Regions from separate parts of the Homo sapiens genome. Here region 1 is linked to region 2. The links come from fine-mapping of genetic effects on gene expression. A gene starts in region 2. The other region holds a variant in brackets. All regions are shown on one strand. Distances are from middle to middle. Region 1 overlaps MYL5 (myosin light chain 5). Region 2 holds the start of PDE6B-AS1 (PDE6B antisense RNA 1).

Region 1 (11,789 bases), 28 kb after region 2:
GGTCCCACCTGGCTCAGCACACCGCCCGCAGGGGCCTCTGCAGCTGTCAGGTCAGCTGTGGGTGCAGAAGCCGATACTCCCCCGGCTCAGGCTTGCTGCTATCTTTAGCACTGTGCTCAGACTCCAGTGGCCTGGGAACCCTCTGCAGGGGGCTCTGCAGCCCTTCTCACATTCCCGGTGGCCTCGGGGGGCCTCCCAACCATGCTTCCCCCCTCGGTGTGGTTCTCCCCACTCCTGCAGCCCAGCAGTGCCCCTTCAGGATCACACCCAGACCCCACTGGACTGGCAGCAGGGGATGCCCTGGCCCTTGCTCCCAGCCCCAGGGTTCCACATCTGGTCACCTGACACCTTGCAGTCGGCCCCAGGTCCCTCCTGGGCAGGTCATGCCTCCAGGGTCCTCAACCTCAGGAGTCAGTGCTTCATAGAGGCCGCTGGACCTGGGGATGGCACCAGGCAGCATCTCAGGGGACGCCAACTGTGACCATGTGTCCCTCAGGGGGTAGGACCTCTGCTCAAGAGACATGCAAGTGGCACCTGTCTTTTTAGCCTTGCAGACACGGTGGCGCCCCCAGGGATCCCACCTGCTGTTGTGGCTGCATATAGTCACTCCCACCACTGCCCCTGCAGCACCGAGGGGCAGGTGCCCTGGGTCCTGTTACCTACTGCGTCCCACGCAGACGCAGGCCTGGGGGGCTCCAAAAGCTTGTTCTCCACTCAGCCTGTAGGCCTCCTCCTTGATCCTGCTTGGCCTGCAGACCCTCCTCCCACCCCTTGAACCAGGGCATCTGGATGCTGACTCTGTGGTGGCCTCTGATGTCTGACACCACCAACAGACCCTGGGCCAGGTCCCTACCCCAGACTCTGTGCCTGAGGCCATGGTATAGTGGGGAAGACCAGGCTCAGGGCCCTAGAGTCCCCCTCCCAGCCCATCTGAGCAACGTGGCCATCTCCATGGCTCCTCCAACCCAGAAATGTCATCACCCATGGGCCAGGCAAGGAGCTCCCAGCCATGAGGTCAGACGGGGTGGTCCCAGGGCCAAGGCTATGGACTGACTTCTGTCACCAAGGCAGGGAGGGGCGTGGACACCCCTGACAGACAGAGTGTGCTTGGCAGAAGCCCGGTGACCAGCTGCAGTCACCCACAGCAGCGTTGTGCAAATCTAGAAAAAGTGCCCCTTCCTCTGGCTCCTGCAGTTCCAGGGTGCCCAGGCCCCCAGCCAAGAGCGTGTACAGGTGGCCCTGCTGACACACAGAATCCTTGGGAGAACAAAGCCTCCCCGGGGTTCGGGGACAGGTGGATGGGAGGTAGTCCTGGCCAGAGGTATCTGGGGAGGCTGGGGGCCTTGCGGGGTGAGGCAGGGCAAGGGTGTGAGTCACTGCCAGGCTGCCAAAGCTCACTCTGCAGCTGTCCAGTCCCCTGGGGTAGCCCCAAGCCTGTCCTTGTAGGGAGTGGCAGCCGGAGTCTGAACTGTCCTGGGGGACCAAGCAGGAGCTTAAGATGGGCAAGACCTGGGGCCCTGGGCAGACGCATCAAAGCAGGCAGAAGCAGGCATGGTGAGCAGGCCGCCGTGCATGCCTGGGGCAGGCGTGTGGGTGTGAGCTGTGCTGTGCATGTGTACATGCGCACAGACGAGCGTGGGCGTGTCCGTGCTTGCGTGTGAATGCAGGTGTGGGCGTGTGCTCTGCCTGCATATGTGTGTGCATGAGCGTGTGTATGTGCGTGTGTGTGACCTTGCGGGTGTGGGCTGTGCTGTGTTGTGGGAAGTACGTGCCTCACGTTGCTCTCCTGGTGAGAGTCCGGAGCAGGATGAGGGGGTTCCTGGCTTTCACAAAATCCCGGTACCCAGAACAAGCCCACCCAGAGTCCACTTGCCCCTCAAGCCTTCAGAGGCCAAGCTGGCTCCTGCTGGACGGCGATCCCTGACCACTGTGCTCTGTGGGCCTTCTGGAAGCCACTGTCCCTCCCCCAGTCCCTGTGCTGAAGCCAGACACCTGCAGCCGTCCTGCCCCCAACCCCAGCTACCCAGGCCTGAGGCTGGCATGCTCCTCAGCTGTCTGGCCCCCTCCAGCCCGAAGGGCTGAGGTCCACCCTTCATCTGAGTTAAGTCTCTCAAAACTCTGGGTGCCCTGGAGGGTTTCGTCAGCCAGCCCAGGACCCTCAGCCATGGTGCTCCCACCGCAGGCCAGCAGGAAGACCAAGAAGAAGGAAGGGGGTGCCCTCCGGGCCCAGAGAGCCTCATCCAATGTCTTCTCCAACTTTGAGCAGACTCAGATCCAGGAGTTCAAGGAGGTGAGACTTTCCTGCTTCACTGGGAGCCCCCACCCCCAGGAGCCTGTGCTGGGAAGACCCCATGTGGGCTGGCTCCAGGGCCAGCAGGAGTGGAAGCCTATCCTCAGTCAGGGGTGCTGAGGAACCGGGAGCAGGGGGCGGGGCAGAGCCCAGCCGGGTTGGCAGCACAGCAGCCCTGACCTTGGTCCCCAGGCATTCACACTCATGGATCAGAACCGAGATGGCTTCATTGACAAGGAGGACCTGAAGGACACCTATGCCTCCCTGGGTAGGTACCCAGGCAGAACGCCTCAGAGCCCTTGGAGGAGGCGAACACAGAGGTCCTCCAGCTCCAGACGCCGCGGCCCCTCCTCGAATGGAGCCAGGGCCCGCGCCTCAGAGGCCCACCAACGGCCCTGAAGCTGCAAGGTGATGGCCCTGGCCGCCCTTGGTTCCATCAGAGCTGGCAGAGAGCATCCCAGGGTGAGACAGGGTGGGTGGGACAGCCCAAGCCTGGAAACTCAGAGTGGGCTTTGAGGCAGCAGGCTCCAGGGAGGGGCTGACTCTCTGGTAGGACGCCACAGGCAGGCAGGCGGCTTGCCCCCAGGCAGGACCACAGAGCTGACAGAGGGCATGGAGACCCTGCCCGGCCAGACCACAGAGCTGACAGAGGGCGTGGAGACGCTGCCCAGCCTCTGCAGCACAGCCCGAGTGTGGTGGGGCACACTGCCCTCCCCAGCTTCAGTCCTCCCTGCGGCACATTCTGTTCCCAGCAGCTGCCTCTGACCTGAGGCAGGAGGGCAGGGGGCTTCGGTCCTGCCCTGGGAGCTGGGGAGTGATTTCTCCTTGGGGTGGGAGGGTCGCAAGTGACCCACCTTCCTCTCGGCCCTGCTTATGCCCAGAATTAAGAACAGCAGATCCCAGCACCTTCCCAGGCTCTGTGTCACCTCCCTCTCCCTCAGCACTTAGTCCTGGGGCTCACGGTTTGGGGTGAGGTGGACACAGCCAGCCAGATGCACCCACTGCCCCACGTGCCTGGGCCAAGCGTCTCCTTCCCGCTCCCTCCCCACCCTTCCCATCTGCCTGCCTGGCCCTGTGCTGGGGTCACCTGCTGGTGGCACAGGGCAGGCAACAAGCCCTGCCCTGTGATGCCCCCATGTCTGTAACAGGCAAGACCAACGTCAAGGACGACGAGCTGGACGCCATGCTCAAAGAGGCCTCGGGGCCCATCAACTTCACCATGTTTCTGAACCTGTTTGGGGAGAAGCTGAGCGGTGAGCACCGGTGGGGCAGGCCTGGCCCTCCTAGCTAATTCCTAACAGTTAGAGATCCGGACATTTCACGTAAAAATCTCTCTTTTCCAATCTCTGGAGAAGCCCTAGGGCCTGGCACTCTGGGAGCCAACAACTGTGGGGCCCCGTCAGCCACCCCAGAGCCATGTGCTCAGGCCCGCCCTCCTGCCCCACGTGCTGTGTGACCCGCCGTCGACACCTCTGTCCCTCACTCATGCAGCACTCACCCCCAGCTCCAGGCCTGGGCTGACCCTGGGCACCCCAAAACTCACTACACCCCAGGGCAGGAGTGCCCGACAAGGCCTCCTTGGGGCTCAGGAAAGGAGAAGGCCTTCAGGCAGAGGCCACCTTGTGGGCAGAGGCTTGGAGTCTCCCCCTGCTTGGGGCAGGGGTCTCCCCTCCTGCCATCTGCCCTTGGCAGCCACGGGACTGCCACCCTGA[C/T]GGCCCTGGGCTGAAGGTGCCTTTGTGGCAGGTACCGACGCCGAGGAGACCATTCTTAACGCCTTCAAGATGCTGGACCCGGACGGGAAAGGGAAAATCAACAAGGAGTAGTGAGTGCCCGGGCGGCCAGGGCGGCCCGGCTTCCGGGGAACCCCAGTGATCTCATCCTGTCCCAAAAGGGACAGTCAGCCACCAGATGCCACGCCCACCTCCCCACCTCTGACCAGCTTCAGGGCCATGAGGAGCGAACCCAGGATCCCAGCTGAGTGGGAGGCCAGCCCTGCTCACACAGGGACCAGCGCCTGTGCCCGGTGGGGGTGGGGCGGCTTCCCCTCAGCCCACTCCTCCATCTTCAGCTCCTGCTAGGCGCCGGGGAAAGTACCAGGCGCTGGCCTGTAACCTCCTTCCGGCTCTGTCCCCATCAGCGGCTCCCCCAGAAGTGATGGCCCCTGAGTGTGTGTTGGGAAGGGACCTGCCCCAGGGCCACACTCCAGCGGGAAGGGCGGGAGTGCAGTGAGCGAGTACAACCTGGGGCCCCTGGAGCACCTGAGCCCCACCGAGAAGGCTCCTGCACCCCCGCATCAGCCCGCGCTGACCCCTTTCCTCGTCCTCAGCATCAAGCGTCTGCTGATGTCCCAGGCTGACAAGATGACGGCGGAAGAGGTCTGGCCCGCGGCTTCCCTGCCAAGCCCACGAGGGGAGGGCGGGGCTCCCGGGGTCAGCTGGGTGGAGGGGGACGCGGAGCCCGAGGAGCAGCGCCGCGGTTAGGACCCAGGACAGAACAGGCCCCCGGGGGGCTCCCGAAGTGCCCGTCTGAGGGACGGAACTGGCTCAGAGGGATCAGGTCAGCGGTTGGAGACCCCTCCCCTCCGTTAGATCAGCGGCTGGAGACCCCTCCGCGGCCTGAGCGTCTGTCCCAGCCGGAGGGGCGGGGCTCACAGCTGTGCGGTCCGGAGCCGCCCCCCACCCCCGACGCGCCGCTCCCAGCCCCAGCGGGCGAGACTAATGCCGGGCCACCCCTCAGGACCCCCGCACCTCCCCCAGACCCCACACGGTCCTCCCCGACGCTGCTGAAGGGCCGAGCCCGACACGTGCGCCCAGACTGTGGCTGCAGCCGCCGCCGCCCCGCCCCCTCCAGCGCCGCCCCGCCCCCTCCAGCGCCGCCCCGCCCCCTCCAGCGCCGCCCCGCCCCCTCCAGCGCCGCCCCGCCCCCTCCAGCGCCGCCCCGCCCCCTCCAGCGCCGCCCCGCCCCCTCCAGCGCCGCCCCGCCCCCTCCAGCGCCGCCCTCACCCCGCACCCGGGCCCCTCCCCGCTCCCCCTCCCGCGGCGCAGAAACCACACCCGGGGCCGCTGCAGGTGCGCGCTTGTAATTCGCTCCCGGAGCCCGCAAGGAGCCCTTTCGCCCCCGCCCGCAGGTGGACCAGATGTTCCAGTTCGCCTCCATCGATGTGGCGGGCAACCTGGACTACAAGGCGCTCAGCTACGTGATCACCCACGGGGAGGAGAAGGAGGAGTGAGACCCAGCCGGGTCAATAAACCTGGACGCTTGGACCCTGCCTGCGAGTCTGCCGGGGCGGGAGGGCGCGTCGGTGGCTGCTGGGCCTTGCGCACGGGGAGTCGCTCGGTGGCAGGCTGGGTGGGGGCTCCCGGGCCCTCTGGGGTCCTCTAGCGAGGCCCCCCTCGCCGTGCACTCCGGAGTCGCCGTGCTGGGCCCCAGGACCCCAGCCCTTCCTGCTCCCCCTCGGTCCACACCCGGCCCTGAGTCTGCGCCGCCCACGGCGTTACGGGTGGAGGGGGGCTCCCCAGACTCGGCCTGCAGGCGCCGGTATGGGGTGTGGAAGAAGACCGCCAGGATGCAGCTGAAGAAGGTGCACAGGCCGGCCATCAGCAGCAGAGACACTGGGGACACATAGCACAGCTGTCCCCACAGCCAAGCCCAGGGGCCACAGATGGGCAGAGCCCAATGCTGGCCTATGGTGACCCCACTACCCTTGACCACAGAGTGACCCCAGACGGAGAGCCCACTCGCAGCTCTTGACAGCCCTGAGGGGGTGTTTGCAGACCCAGGTCCTGAGAGAGGTCACTAGCATGGGGTCTGGGATATGGGTGTGCCAGCCCCATCTCTGATCTCGGCCACACCTGTCCTGGCTCACCTGTCCTATTGCCCGGGGACTCCCTGCGTGGTGCTCACCTGTCCTGCTGTTTAGGGCTCCCCACGTAGGGTTCACCTGTCCCGCTCCCAGGGAATCTTCACATGGGGCTCACCTGTCCTGTTCCCTGGGGACTCCCCATGTGAGGCTCACCTGTCCAGTCAAGTGGATCCTCCCCCTGCTGGCAGGTGGACAAGGACGGCTCCGAGCGTCGCACAGTCAGTGCCGTCATTGCCAGCATGATGAGTATTCCCTCGGCCTGCCTGGACACACGTGGCCCTCAGCCCCCGCTGCACTGCCCACCCCCTCGGAGCCAGGTGCCACCTTGGGAAATGTTGACATCGGTGCTGTCCCTTGTGCCACCACCCTCCTGAAGGCAGCACGCAGCCTCGGTCATGGGCCCTATCAGCCGGCCCGGCCTGCACACAGCAGGTGCTCAGAACCTGCTCGGCCCTTGCCAGAGCAGGCAGGTTCCCCACCTCCCCGAAAAGGGGCCTGGACCACATGGTGCAACCCCAGGGGTGTAGGGGTGGAGCAAGGGGAGTATCTCTGGGGTTGCAGCAGGGGCAGATGGACACTCACCCCAGCACAAAGATCATGCCTGTGGCAGCCCCCTCCCCCACGGGGAAGGAACACTCGACCGCCAACTCCATGGCCACGGGGCCCACCGAGAAGCCAAACAGCCCGAGCAGCGAGCAGGTGGCAGCCAGGGCAAGGGTCTGTCCCTGCAGCTGGGACACCTGGGAGCAGCGGAACGGCAGGCAGACAGGTGGAGGGGGTGGCAGTCAGAACTGGACCTGGCTTCACGGGACATGGGACACGGGGCAGGAGAACCCATCCCACCCCGGGGCCACCCTGGCTGGCAGAGGCTGGGCATGAGACAGTCCAGACCTCTGTTCCAGCCAAGCCGCCAACCGCCCTCTCCGGGCCTCACCACCCACCCACCCCCACAGGGCAGTCTTGGCTTGAGGAGACCCTCACCAGGGCAAAGGGCACGCAGGCCAGAGAGAACAGGCACAGGCCAATCTTGGTGGCCTCAGTGAAGTGCTTGGTCCGGTCCACATAGGGGCCGAGAGCCAGTGCCCCCAGGATCCCAAACGTGATGAAGAGAGCGCCACAGAGGCCGGAAAACCCCTGGAGGAGGCGAGAAGAGGCCAGGGCCCCAAGAGGCCACCATTATCCTAGGTGCATGCCGTCAGGGCAGGGGGCTCAGTGTAGGGCCGTGTGCTGTGCCCAAGGCCCAGGCATAGCAACACAGCTTCCAGACGCACCGCTGGCTGCCTGCGGGGTAGGGTTTCCTGCCTTGTGTTTCCCACCCCACCCCAGAGCAAAGCAATCGCTAAAGGGAAGAGCCTGTCTCCACAGAGGCCCCACAGGGCCGTGGTGCCTGTGGCCCTGGCAAAGGTGGAAACATGCCCCCAATCCTACACTGAGCACTGATCCCAGAAGGCAGAGGGCAGAGGGCCAGCTCGGAGATATGCGAGCAGAGCAAGGCCCTCCCCGCTGCACGTCTGGATACCAGAAGGTGGCGCTGTCCTGCAGACCCACAGGGGCGGGGCCTTGCTGGGAAGGGGCACTGGGAGCCCTGGGGGCCCCACCTTCCCATCCACAGGGCACCGTCAGTCCCTCCGCTCCGTCCCACAGCTGCCCCACCCCACTGCAGCTGTGCCCACCACCTCCACTGCCTGTGGACATAATGTCACACAGGGCATCTCGGGAGGGCCCACAGCACAGAAGGGTGTCAATGTGGCCCCCGCCAGGGTCGGACACTGGGCACCCTGGAGGCGGCGGTGACTCCATGGCCATATGGGGCGGATGACAGAGGCAGGGTCCCCAGGGGTGGGGCCAGGCTCACACTGGAGTGGCCGCTTGCACAGAGGATCTGCTCCAGGAGGGCTGAGAAGCTGGCAGAGATCCCGATCATTCCCCCCAAGCACACAGCCAGGATGACATAGGCCTTGTTCCACATGAGCTGCTGGGAAAGAGCGTCTCAGCCCCGGAGCCCGGGGGCCCTTCCCAAACCCATCGCCTCCTCAGCCTCTTGCCCCCACCCCCAAATCCACCCTACCCCGGGGATCCCACGGCACTGACCAGCTTGAGCCCATCCAGGAACTTCTCTGAGGTGGAGCTGGCAGCCCCGGCAGAGGGCGGGGTGGGGGGCACACTCTCCCACAGGCAGATGGTGGACAGCAGGCAGACGACGCCAGCAGGGATGGTATAGACACCGAGCTGGGGAGGGGTGTGTGTGCACAAGGAGACCACGCAGACTGGCACCCACACACGCCGCAGCCCTGCCTGTCCCAGGCGCCACCTCCCAGCTCCTCCTGCCCCACCACCGGCTGCCTCCCAACCTCTGGTCTGCAGCTGCCCTTTGCGAGGCCCAGGCTGGGAGGGGCCTGCTCCAGGGGCTCATGGGGACCCCTGGCTGTCAACGCATCCCTCACCAGTGACACCCTCCTGGCTGATGTTAGCCCAGCACCCCCAGGCTCCAGACTTACATCTCACTGCCAGCTGCACAGCCCATGATAGGGCTCAACACACAGACACAGGTGGGTGCAGAGGCACACGTGCATACAGACTCACGCTCAGTACATACCCCCAAGCACAAACACACCACCCGCACCTGATACACATGCACGAGCACACACAGGTACACACCACACATGTGCACAGACACACAGACACATATGCACACATCACACAATACACATGGGCACAGGAACAGAGACACGCACCGCACACACCACACACACTCAATACACACAGGCAGGCATAGAAACATCACACACTGGCCGGGCGCGGTGGCTCACGCCTGTCATCCTAGCACTTTGGGAAGCCGAGGCAGACGGATCATGAGGTCAGGAGTTCGAGACCAGCCTGGCCAACATGGTGAAACCCCAACTCTACCAAAAATACAAAAAAAAAAAAATTAGCCAAGCATGGTGGCGCACGCCTGTAGTCCCAGCTACTCGGGAAGATGAGGCAGGGGAATTGCTTAAACCCAGTAGGCGGAGGTTGCAGTGAGCCGAGATCGCGCCACTGCAATTCAGCCTGAGCGACAGGCTGAGACTCCTTCTCGGGTGGCGGGGCGGGGGACGGGAATCACACACGGGCACAGGAACACGGACACACTTGGGATCAGGAACACACAGACGTGCATGCGCACACACCACACAGACCAGGCACGGGCGTCTCATGACCCCTCACCATTAACGGAATGTCCTCACCCTTCTTGACCAGCACAGGGGACAGCACATTGGCCACAAGGACGCCCAGAGGGTTCGCTGGGTGGGCGGATGCACAAAGTGTCAGCTCGGCTGTGGCCTGGCTTCATCGCCAGCCCACAGGCAGAACCTTCCGGGCCCCAGCTCCTCCACCCTGGCCAGAGAGCCTGGGGAGCCGAGCGTCTGTGTGGACCCTGAGGTGAGCCCAGGCAGGCGGCCTCCCTCCCCGGAACTCACACATGGTGGCGAGCATGTTGGCCGTGGCTCGCTGGTGCTCTGGGAACCACAAGGCAGCCAGCTTGGCTGGAGAGAAGATGACCAGGCTCTGGGCAAGGGCACAGAGGCTCTGGCCACCCATGAGGAAGGCAAATGGGTTTTGGGTCCCAACAACCATGCAGGGCACCATGCGTAGCACACTCCCGGCAAAGTTCAGCCACGCACCCAGGATGGTCTGCGAGGAGGGGGTCGGGGACCGGGTCAGGAACGCTGCCACCAGCCCAAGTGCCTGCCCCGTCCCCCGAGCACCTGGACCTCCCACTGCCGCCACCTCGACGGCTCTGCCGGGGTCCCCAGCTGTTGGGACTGGTGGGCCCCGGTCTGGGGAGGCCTTGACTCTCCTACCCAAATGCGGGGGCCCCTGCACTGTCCCGGAGCGGGCCATGGTGTGGGGTCTGACTCACCGCCGCACGGAGCCCGACGGAGTCCAGGATCCAGATGGCCGCCACGCCAAATGGGGTGGATACCACGAGGTAGACCAGTGACAGCCAGTTGATCTGCTCCATGGACAGGACCAAGTCCTCAGCAATGACGTCAGCCACAGGTGCAAAGCTGAGCCACAGCTGCAGGGGTCAGGCGGGAGTCAGCGCAGGGCCACAGACCCCGGACCTACCTGCTGTGGCCCCAGCCAGCCCGAGGGGGTCAGAGTGCCAGCAGCCCCGTGAGGCCGAGGGGACACAGCGAGCTGGACACGGGGCCTTCCTGCCCAAGGAGAGCGCCACCCTGCCTCCCCCGAGGGCGGGCACCCAGCGCAGGGTCAGAGAGCATGCCCTGACCGGGGACCAGCCTGGGGGGCAGACACTGAGGCCAAGGACCTGGCCAGAGCCCACAGGACCACGAGCCCTGCCCAGACCAGACCTGGCGCTCCAAGGCAGGGAAAGGTGGGCGTGACGGGGTCTCAGCTAGAACCTCTGGGACTGCAGGCCAGCCCCACCCAAGGCCAGCCTGACCTTCCCTCCTGCAGGGCCCAGGTGTTTGGGCAGAATGTTGCCAGAGCGGGCACCATTCCCCAGCCACAGGCATTATCAAGTACTAGAGCTCTTCACCCCACGGACGTCCAGCACACAGCACAAGTGCACGCTGCGGCCGAGGGGAAGGCCTCCTAGGAGAGGTGAGACTGGCTCATCCCTGAGGGAGGCCAAAGTGGAGCGGGTCACCGGGGCTCACTCCGGGAGGCAGGAGGCCGTGTCACTCAAGGTCAACTTCCATGAGTCGACTGAGCTCCAGGCCACACCCTCGGACACAGCAGCCAGACCCAGGCTCCGCCCGGACAAGGTCTGACTCAGCCCACGGGACAGGACAGGGAGCTTGGGCAACAGCCGCCCTGTCTTCCTTTTTCTGCAGGACGGGGCCAGGCACAGAACGAGCTCCCCAGGCCCAGCTGGTGCCTGCCTGGCCGAGCCCGGGAGAGAAAGCCCACCCTGCGGAGCCGAGCCCGCCGCTCCAGCCTCAGCCCTGTCCTGGTTCCTCGGGGGCCTGAGTGGGGCCCACAGCTGACTCACTGAGAAGAGATGCGTCTGAAGCGTGCGGGGCAACGTGGGAGGACGATCTGTCTGACTCCCTTCCTCATCTCCCAGCCTCGACCCTGCCTGCGCTCGCCCCCTTGGGTCCTTTGAGTCTCATCCAGAGCACTGGGCTGCCTTCCGGGGTGGGTGTTGACCCAAGCTCTGCTCCGCCTGGCCCTCATGCTGCTGGTTGGAACCCGGGATCCCTGGTCACTGGCTGCAGATGAGTAACCTCCAGCCTCAAGGGCACTTGGCTGGAGTGAACATGGTGCTTACGGCTCACTGTGGTGACCCAGGCAGAGACCATGACGACTCTTGGTGTCAGGGTGAGATTTCTGTGTGCTCCATGATGACTCGTGGATATTAATAAAACAGTGAAGAACTGCAGCAGGAGGCCCTTGACTGTCCAAGGAACGCCCCACACCTACGACACCCACTGACTCTTGGACCATGAAACCAGCCCTGCACCCTCAGACACTCCACCCAAAGCCAGTTATGGCTTCCCCAGTGCCTGGACATGGTGGGCCAGGACGCCAAGCCACAGCAGTGAGTTACGGCTCGTGCCAGCATTGTGGGCAGCAGGCAGCCCCTGGGCCCATCCAGCAGATCCCGGGCCTGTCTCGGCCAGAGGC
Region 2 (8,000 bases):
GCCAGGGTCGGAGGTTGGAAGAGCCATTCCGGAGGGCAGGGGGTGTTGACGGGGGCACAGAGGAATGCCCTGAGCCCGAGCCGGCAGCGAAAATCCACCCGCCACACGCTGAAGACGCCTGCACTTCAGTCAGTTGCTGTGTGCACCAGCAGGCTTTTAACCGGAAAATTAAAAATGAAAACAAGGAGGACGGCAGAAGCCTCAGGGTGGGGCTGCTGGGCTGGGACCACCTTGAACTCAGTGCCTCCCCTCACTGAGGTGCCGATGTCAACGGCAGTGGGGCTGTCACAGGCAGGACGGGCTGAGGCGGCGATGTCAACGGCAGTGGGGCTGTCACAGGCGGGGCAGGGGCTGAGGTGGCGATGTCAACAGCAGTGGGGCCGTCACAGGCAGGACAGGGCTGAGGCGCCGATGTCAACAGCAGTGGGGCCGTCACAGGCGGGGCAGGGGCTGAGGCGGCGATGTCAACGGCAGTGGGGCCGTCACAGGCGGGGCAGGGGCTGAGGCGGCGATGTCAACAGCAGTGGGGCCGTCACAGGCGGGGCAGGGGCTGACCCGTGGGGTCAGACTGAATGGGGAGTGGGGGCCCCAGGGGTTGGTGGGTCCTCAGGGGGGGCCTCCTGGAAAGGACTTGAGGCCAGGCCTTGGGAGGAGGAGGGCCTGGGATGAGGGCCTGGAGGCAGAGGCCAGAGCCCGTGCGAAGGCGCTGAGTTCGGCAGGAGACAGACTGAGTGTGGGAGGGACGCAGAGGGCGCAGAGGGTGGGGCCGGGCCTCCACCTGCGGCTCTGGGTGAACCAGTCACGCGAGGAGAATGCACCTGGCGATTCCACACATCTACAGCGAGTCTCCTGAGCCGCAGGCGCCGGGGCTGTGGAGAGCCGTCTCCATTCAGCAGGCGCCAGGGCTATGGGGAGCCGTCTCCATTCAGCAGGCTCTGGAGCTATGAAGAGCCGTCTCCATTCAGCAGGCGCCGGGGCTATGGGGAGCCGTCTCCATTCAGCAGGTGCCGGGGCTGTGGAGAGTGCTAGGGCGGTCGCCATCTGCACCTGCTGTTTTCCCAAGTCCTGTTCTGGACCCACTAACTCCAGTGACTGAGCTGACTTCTTCACACGGGCATGGGGCCAAAGCTCCTGACCAGTGCAGGGACACGGGGGGTGGGACATACTCAGATAGGGGCTGGGAAGGCTGGGAGCTTCTGCTGAGGGTGGCACCAGCAGCAGCTCCATGACTGTGACTGCGGCCAGGGCGGCTCCACGACGGTGACTGGGGTCAGGGCAGGAGAGTGTGGAGGCCAGTGAGGAGGGTCCACACCCATCGGTGAGGCAGGAGTCAGGGTAGGCTGCAGACCCGGGCGGAGATTGCGAGGCAGGGGTCAGGGTCACTGGAGAAACATGGCTCAGGAAAGGCTTCAGGGAGAAAAAGGTGTTGGACGAGAGAGGCTGGTGCTCAGGGGCTGCAGGGGGGCCGGGCCTCAGCAGGGAGGGAGGGAGGGACTCTGGGAACAGCAGAGCCGGCACTGAGGATGCTGCCAGGGAAGGGCACTGACGTGCATGGACCTGGAGGATGCCACTGGCCAAAAGCTAGGATCTCACTCACATGTGGGATCCGAAAACCCTGAATTCATGGAAACAGAGAGTGGAAAGGGGGTTGCAGGAGGCCGGGGCAGGAAGAGAGATAGAGAAAGCAGAGACGTTGGTGAAAGGGTGCAAAGCGTTCGTTAGCTGGAGCTGTGGGCTTCAAGGTCAGCCGCGCTGTGTGGCGGCCACCACTGCCGTTAACCACAGTACACAGGGTGCTCGGTAAGTGCAGTTCTGCTTCCGAGGATTTATGATGTGGGAAAAGTTTTAAATTAAAAATAAGAATAAGAATGTAAAACAATACAGTAGAACAGCCGTTTTCATGGCCTTGCCTTGCACTGGGTGCTAAGTCATCGGAGATGATTTGAAGTCCTGGGGGTGCGTGTGCAACCTCTGTACAAACTCTAGGCCATTTCACATCCGGGACTTGAACATCCTCGGATTTTGTTATCAGAGCGGCGTCCTGGAACCAATTTCCCTGAGGATGCCGAGGGATGACTGTATTGTATACCAAATTGCTAGAAAATAGACTTGTAATGTTCTCACCACAAAAAAAACAAGTTGGTGAGGTGATGGATATGTTGATTAGCTTAATTGAATCTTTCTGCAACAAATACTTACATCAGAACATCACGCCAAACCCCATAAAACATAAACCCCATCAATACACACAATTATTCAACTGAAGATAAACTAAAATCAGTAAAATCAATGTACTGGGAAATAAAGCTACGAACATCTCACTGCCCTTGGCAACAGGAGAGCCTGGTCCTGTTCCCACCATGAGCTGAGTGCCAGGGGGTGGAACTTCAGAGGGCCTGGCAGGGAGAGAGCTGGGCTAGGACACCGCAGCGGAGGAGAGGGAGCTGGCACCATGCGGTAGAAGACCCAGCGGCCGCCGCGAGTGTGAGGAGGCAGGGCCTGGTGGGGCCTGGGTCTGGGCCTTGACCAAGGAGGCAGAGAAAGGTGGCCCAAGGAGGGCCCTGGGGTGAGTCTGAGCCTGGTGGCAGCGCTGACCCAGCAACCAGGGGCCTGTGCAGCGGGATGTCCTGAGTGGGGTCTGGCCAGGACCTCGTGGAGTGCGTCAGCAATGCTTCACTCTCAGACGCTTGGCGGAGGCCACAGGCGGCCTGACGTGCGGAAACCACGGCCCGATGTTCTCAAAGCCCTGCTCGCCGCAGGTGGTTCTGGAGCAGCCGGGCGGAGGAAGGGCTGGTCGGATGTTTGCCTGTCAAGCTCAAAGCGACAGATTCCACTTTCCACTCGTCCACTCCTGAGTGATCAGGGACACGACCGCAGCCTCGAGGCCTCACCGCCAGCCAGCTCCCGGGCCCCACAAGCTCAGATGAAACCTGGCCACGGAGCCACCAATCAGGGTCTGTGCCAGGCTCCACGGCTGGGCAGGTGGTCAGATCAGGGAGCGCACCTGTGTCAGGCTTGAGTTAAACCCCTGCTGCTGTGGTCAGACCGGCGTGAGGGTGGGAGTGGCCACAGGCCCACAGGTGTGCCCCTCCCTCCAGGTGCTGCTGTGGTCGGCCAACAAGGTGTTTGAGGAGCTGACGGACATCGAGAGGCAGTTCCACAAGGCCTTCTACACGGTGCGGGCCTACCTCAACTGCGAGCGGTACTCCGTGGGCCTCCTGGACATGACCAAGGAGAAGGTGAGGCTTCCGTGGCTCAGGGACCCCCTGCCTGGCCCGACCCAGGTCCCGCAGTGACCGCCCCACCCTCACCTCTTCTCTGCCCAGGAATTTTTTGACGTGTGGTCTGTGCTGATGGGAGAGTCCCAGCCGTACTCGGGCCCACGCACGCCTGATGGCCGGGTGAGTCTTAGGGGAGGGGCCCAGGGCCTGTCCACACGCCTCTGTTTCCCTGACTCCAACTCCAGGGCAGGAGAGGGAGGGATAGGGGTGGGGTTTAGGGAGGTGGGAACTGGCCGGTGGGACCCCGGGTGCCTGTCTGTGGTCTCCACCAGGCTCCCCTGCTGCTGCACTCCAGGGATGGGGTGTCCAGGGCTGGTCCCTGAATGAGGGCCGCCAGGCTGGTCGTGAAGACCCACGTCGGCTCTGATTGTGGGGGCTCCTGCTGCCCCATCTCCCCACGTGGGACCTCCTGTGCACGTGTAGGATGCGTGTGTGTGTGTGTGTGTGAGAGTACGGGCCCAGCTTGTGTGTGGGATTGTGCGGAACACAGACTGGGAAGACAGATGTAAACCGCGGCGTGTGATGCGTGTCCCGTGAGTATTGGGGACGGTCTGCATGTGTGTGCACCCTGAGCCTGTGCATGTGTGGACATGGGTGTGAGTGCACCCGCATTCGTAGAATACCTGCGCACGGCGGAGACATCTGTTCACGTGTGTACACATGCACGGTTACGTGTGTGGGGGTGTGCATGCGTGTGGCTGTGTGTAGCTGCATGTAGCTGTGTGTGTGTGTGTGAGCCCCTCAGAGCTTGGCCAGGCAGCCCCCCGACCAGTGTCTTCTGCTTCTCAGGAAATTGTCTTCTACAAAGTGATCGACTACGTCCTCCACGGCAAGGAGGAGATCAAGGTCATTCCGTAAGTGCAGGATTTTACCAGAAGCGTCCCCGGGGGAGGGACCGCCCCTCAGACCCCGGCTCAGCCCCCAGGGCCGTCCTCCCAGGGCTTCCCACGGTGCAGTCAGCAGCACCGGCCTGGCCTGGCCCCACCTGTGGTGCTCTGTGTGCCGTGGGGCATAGTGGAGTTGGGGGTGAGACAGAAGCCGACTCACTGTTCTGGGAGATGGTGAGGAGGACGTGGGCTGCTGAGGAGCCCGAGTCACTGTGGACATCCAGAGTGGACATACAGGGGACCAGGCAAGCTGTCCAGGCGGCCTCGTCAGCAACAATTGAGCATGAAGGCCCCAGGATTTGACCCTGGCACCACCAGCCCCACCCAGACAGTGGAGCCTCCAGCCAGGAGGCCGAGTCTTGGCCCCGTGGGGCTGGAAGAGGAGGGGAACTCCAGTCCGGAGGTCAGGGCAGGACTCCAGCCAAGGGAGGGGCAGCTGGTGGCCCAGTGGCCCTGTGATCCCATAAGCCTATTGGGACCCCATCCCCAGGCCCCAAGCAGGAACCAGGATCCAGGTGCCAGGCTTGAGCACAAGTCAGGGTCAGGGTGGCAGGGCAGGCACCAACGCTGAGTCCTAGAAAGCAGGCTGAAGCCATACGGCCTCCGGAGAGGGAGGGGTTCCCAAGAGGGAGGGGCCCCAGCACGGCAGCCTGGGGAGGAGGAAGAAGGCAGCACAGCCGTCCTCCAACCCACGCCCTGGCCTCCTCGCCTCCTGAACCCCCTGGCACTCAGAGAAGAGAGTAAATGCTGAGGATGGCACATGAGCCAGAGACCCCCAGACCCCTGCACACACGCCCAGTCCATCTGACCCCAGTACACCTACATCCAGCGCAGCCTGGCCCCTCTGACCCCTGCACACACACGTGCAGCCCAGACCAGCCCCTCTGACCCCTGCACACACACGTGCAGCCTAGACCAGCCCCTCTCACCCCTGCACACAGACATCCAGTCCCTCTGACTCCTGCACGCGCACATCCAGCCCGGCGTGGCCTATCTGACCCCTGCTCTCTGCCCACAGCACACCCTCAGCCGATCACTGGGCCCTGGCCAGCGGCCTTCCAAGCTACGTGGCAGAAAGCGGCTTTGTGAGTCCCGTGCTGTCTGGAGTCCCCACAGCCTTGCCCTCACTGGGTGCGGCGATGTGTGCTTCTCCTTGTCTCTGCCACGTCCCGCCCTCCCGGCCAGCTCCACGTGCCTCAGTGAAGCCCCCAGCTGCCCTGCTTTACCTACTTAAAAGCTCACCTCAGGGCCACAGAGGCCATTTTAGATCATAACAGACCTTCCGCTGTTTTGGATGAAATCGTTTTTCTGATGCTTTTTCAGATTTGTAACATCATGAATGCTTCCGCTGACGAAATGTTCAAATTTCAGGTATCTGTCTGTGCCTTGGTAGAAATTATACTTACTTACAAAAGAGGAGATTTTGATTCAGCGATGATGAAGTGAATTCGTTTTTGCCACTTAAAAAACAACTTCAGCCAGGCATGGTGGCTCACGCCTGTAATCCCAGCACTTTGGGAGGCTGAGGCGGGTGGATCACCTGGGGCTGTGACCACAGCCCCCACACACGCCCGCAAGGCCGTGACCGCGGCCCCCACACACCCCTGCGAGGCCGTGACCGCGGCCCCCACACACCCCTGCGAGGCCGTGACCGCGGCCCCCACACACCCCTGCGAGGCCGTGACCGCCGCCCCACACACATGCCCATGAAACCACTCCTGGTGGGAAAACGGCCTCTACCTCCTCCGGTGGGAAAATATCATGACACAAAAACCATGGACACAAACTCCAAATGCAGAGAGGGAGAGAGGGAATGCAGAGAGCAGAGACAGGAACACGAGCCCAGCCGTCACGGCTCTAGGGGAGAAGACATGAGGTCACTCTCCCCGGCCACACGCCCGGGCCAGGGCCAGCCTCAGGGCGGAGCTCAGCTCTGGACACCGCTCCCGCAGGAAGGGGCCCTGGACGACTCCGGGTGGCTCATCAAGAATGTGCTGTCCATGCCCATCGTCAACAAGAAGGAGGAGATTGTGGGAGTCGCCACATTTTACAACAGGAAAGACGGGAAGCCCTTTGACGAACAGGACGAGGTTCTCATGGAGGTAAGCACCTGGGCAGACGTGGTTCCGCCGGGGATGCCCTGCGAGGGGTGGGGCCTGTGCGGTGTGGGGGCCTCCCCGCCAAGCATTCGGCTGTGTGCGTGTGCTCATGTGTGTGCGGTATGCATGCGGCCAGGGAGAGGACGACAAAGGGCCCCCCCGGGAGCAGGAGCCTCTGCAGAGCACCCGGGAGACCCCACACAGAAGCACTGCGACACCATGGTGGCAGCCCCAGGACCTGCCCGCCGAGCCACGGGGCCTGGCACACAGGCACATGGGAGGGGGCGCGCCGGGAGCGCTGAGCGCCAGTGACACTGCCATCCCCTCCAGTCCCTGACACAGTTCCTGGGCTGGTCAGTGATGAACACCGACACCTACGACAAGATGAACAAGCTGGAGAACCGCAAGGACATCGCACAGGACATGGTCCTTTACCACGTGAAGTGCGACAGGGACGAGATCCAGCTCATCCTGGTGCGGCGGGGCAGGACGTCCAGGGGTCACCCAGGGGTCACGGCTGTGTGGCAGGGGCAGGTCGTCCAGGGGTCACCCAGGGGTCTCGGCTGTGTGGTGGGGGCAGGTCATCCAGGGGTCACCCAGGGGTCACGGCTGTGCGGTGGGGGCAGGTCGTCCAGGGGTCACCCAGGGGTCACGGCTGTGCGGTGGGGGCAGGTCGTCCAGGGGTCACCCAGGGGTCACAGCTGTGCGGCGGGGGCAGGGCATCCAGGGGTCACCCAGGGGTCATGGCTGTGCAGCAGAGGCAGGTCATCCAGGGCTCACCCAGGGGTCATGGCTGTGCGGCGGGGGCAGGTCGTCCAGGGGTCACCCAGGGGTCACGGCTGTGCGGCAGGGGCAGGTCGTCCAGGGGTCACCCAGGGGTCATGGCTGTGTGGCACAGGCAGGTCGTCCAGGGGTCCATTGAGGGGTCACAGGGGTCATGGCTGTGCAGCAGAGGCAGGTCATCCAGGGCTCACCCAGGGGTCATGGCTGTGCGGTGGGGGCAGGTCATCCAGGGGTCACGGCTGTGTGGTGGGGGCAGGTCGTCCAGGGGTCCATCCAGGGGTCACCCAGAGGTCATGGCTCTGCGGCGGGGGCAGGTCACCAGGGGTCACAGCTGTGCGGTGGGGACAGGTCACCAGGGGTCATGGCTGTATGGTGGGGGCAAGTCGCCAGGGGTCACGGCTGTGTGGCGGGGGCAGGTCACCCAGGGGTCATGGATCTGTGGCAGGGACAGGTCACCAGGGGTCACGGCTGTGCGGCGGGGGCAGGTCGTCCAGGGGTCACAGGTGTGCGGGGCAGGTCACCCAAGGGTCATGGCTGTGTGGTGGGGGCAGGTCACCCAGGGGTCACAGGTGTGCGGGGCAGGTCGTCCAGGGGTCACGGCTGTGTGGCAGGGGCAGGTCACCCAGGGGTCATGGCTGTGCGGTGGGGGCAGGTCACCCAGGGGTCACAGCTGTGTGGGGCAGGTCACCCAGGGGTCACGGCTCCCTCTGTGCAGTGGGCGGCCAGGTTACCCAGGGGTCACAGCTCTCTCTGTGTGGTGGGGACACGGCCCTGGGGCCAGAGCTGAGTACAGCCCTGGCATGCCCCCGAGGTCCCTCTGTCTGCACGGCCCTGGCATCCCTTCCCTGTGCTCAATCTCCCCAGCCAGGGGCCTTGCATGGCCAGAGCCCTCCTGGTCATCATGAGAGAGTCCCATCATTATACCTGAGGACTGCGTAAGGCAGTGCCCG

What was found. PIP is the estimated chance that this variant, and not a neighbour inherited with it, causes the effect.
Region 1: its variant is fine-mapped to the expression of PDE6B-AS1 in whole blood (TOPMed, PIP above 0.99).

Annotation. Positions count from the first base shown.
Region 1 is chr4:676,476-688,264 of GRCh38, forward strand. MYL5 (myosin light chain 5) reads left to right here. Exons shown (of 9, transcript NM_002477.2): 3 at 1,447-1,554; 4 at 2,183-2,290; 5 at 2,483-2,558; 6 at 3,439-3,543; 7 at 4,034-4,112; 8 at 4,617-4,665; 9 at 5,418-5,553. The coding sequence starts at 1,552. The coding sequence ends at 5,519. It overlaps SLC49A3 (solute carrier family 49 member 3), which reads right to left. Exons shown (of 10, transcript NM_032219.4): 2 at 10,057-10,215; 3 at 9,614-9,827; 4 at 9,360-9,436; 5 at 8,244-8,381; 6 at 8,008-8,124; 7 at 7,134-7,286; 8 at 6,735-6,892; 9 at 6,306-6,415; 10 at 5,354-5,901. The coding sequence ends at 5,483. LOC124900643 (a long non-coding RNA gene) reads left to right here and starts at 10,210. Exons shown (of 2, transcript XR_007057985.1): 1 at 10,210-10,763; 2 at 10,997-11,544. RefSeq lists enhancers at 4,251-4,890, 7,220-7,629, 8,760-8,889, 10,094-11,042 and silencers at 4,643-4,742, 4,963-5,162, 5,243-5,472. The variant C/T (reference allele first, on the strand shown) is at 4,003.
Region 2 is chr4:650,754-658,753 of GRCh38, forward strand. PDE6B-AS1 (PDE6B antisense RNA 1) reads right to left here and starts at 4,447. Exons shown (of 4, transcript NR_183811.1): 1 at 4,329-4,447; 2 at 3,312-3,460; 3 at 3,005-3,218; 4 at 2,152-2,930. PDE6B (phosphodiesterase 6B) reads left to right here. Exons shown (of 22, transcript NM_000283.4): 4 at 3,099-3,239; 5 at 3,327-3,401; 6 at 4,071-4,135; 7 at 5,187-5,253; 8 at 5,492-5,539; 9 at 6,121-6,270; 10 at 6,598-6,741. RefSeq lists an enhancer at 1-774.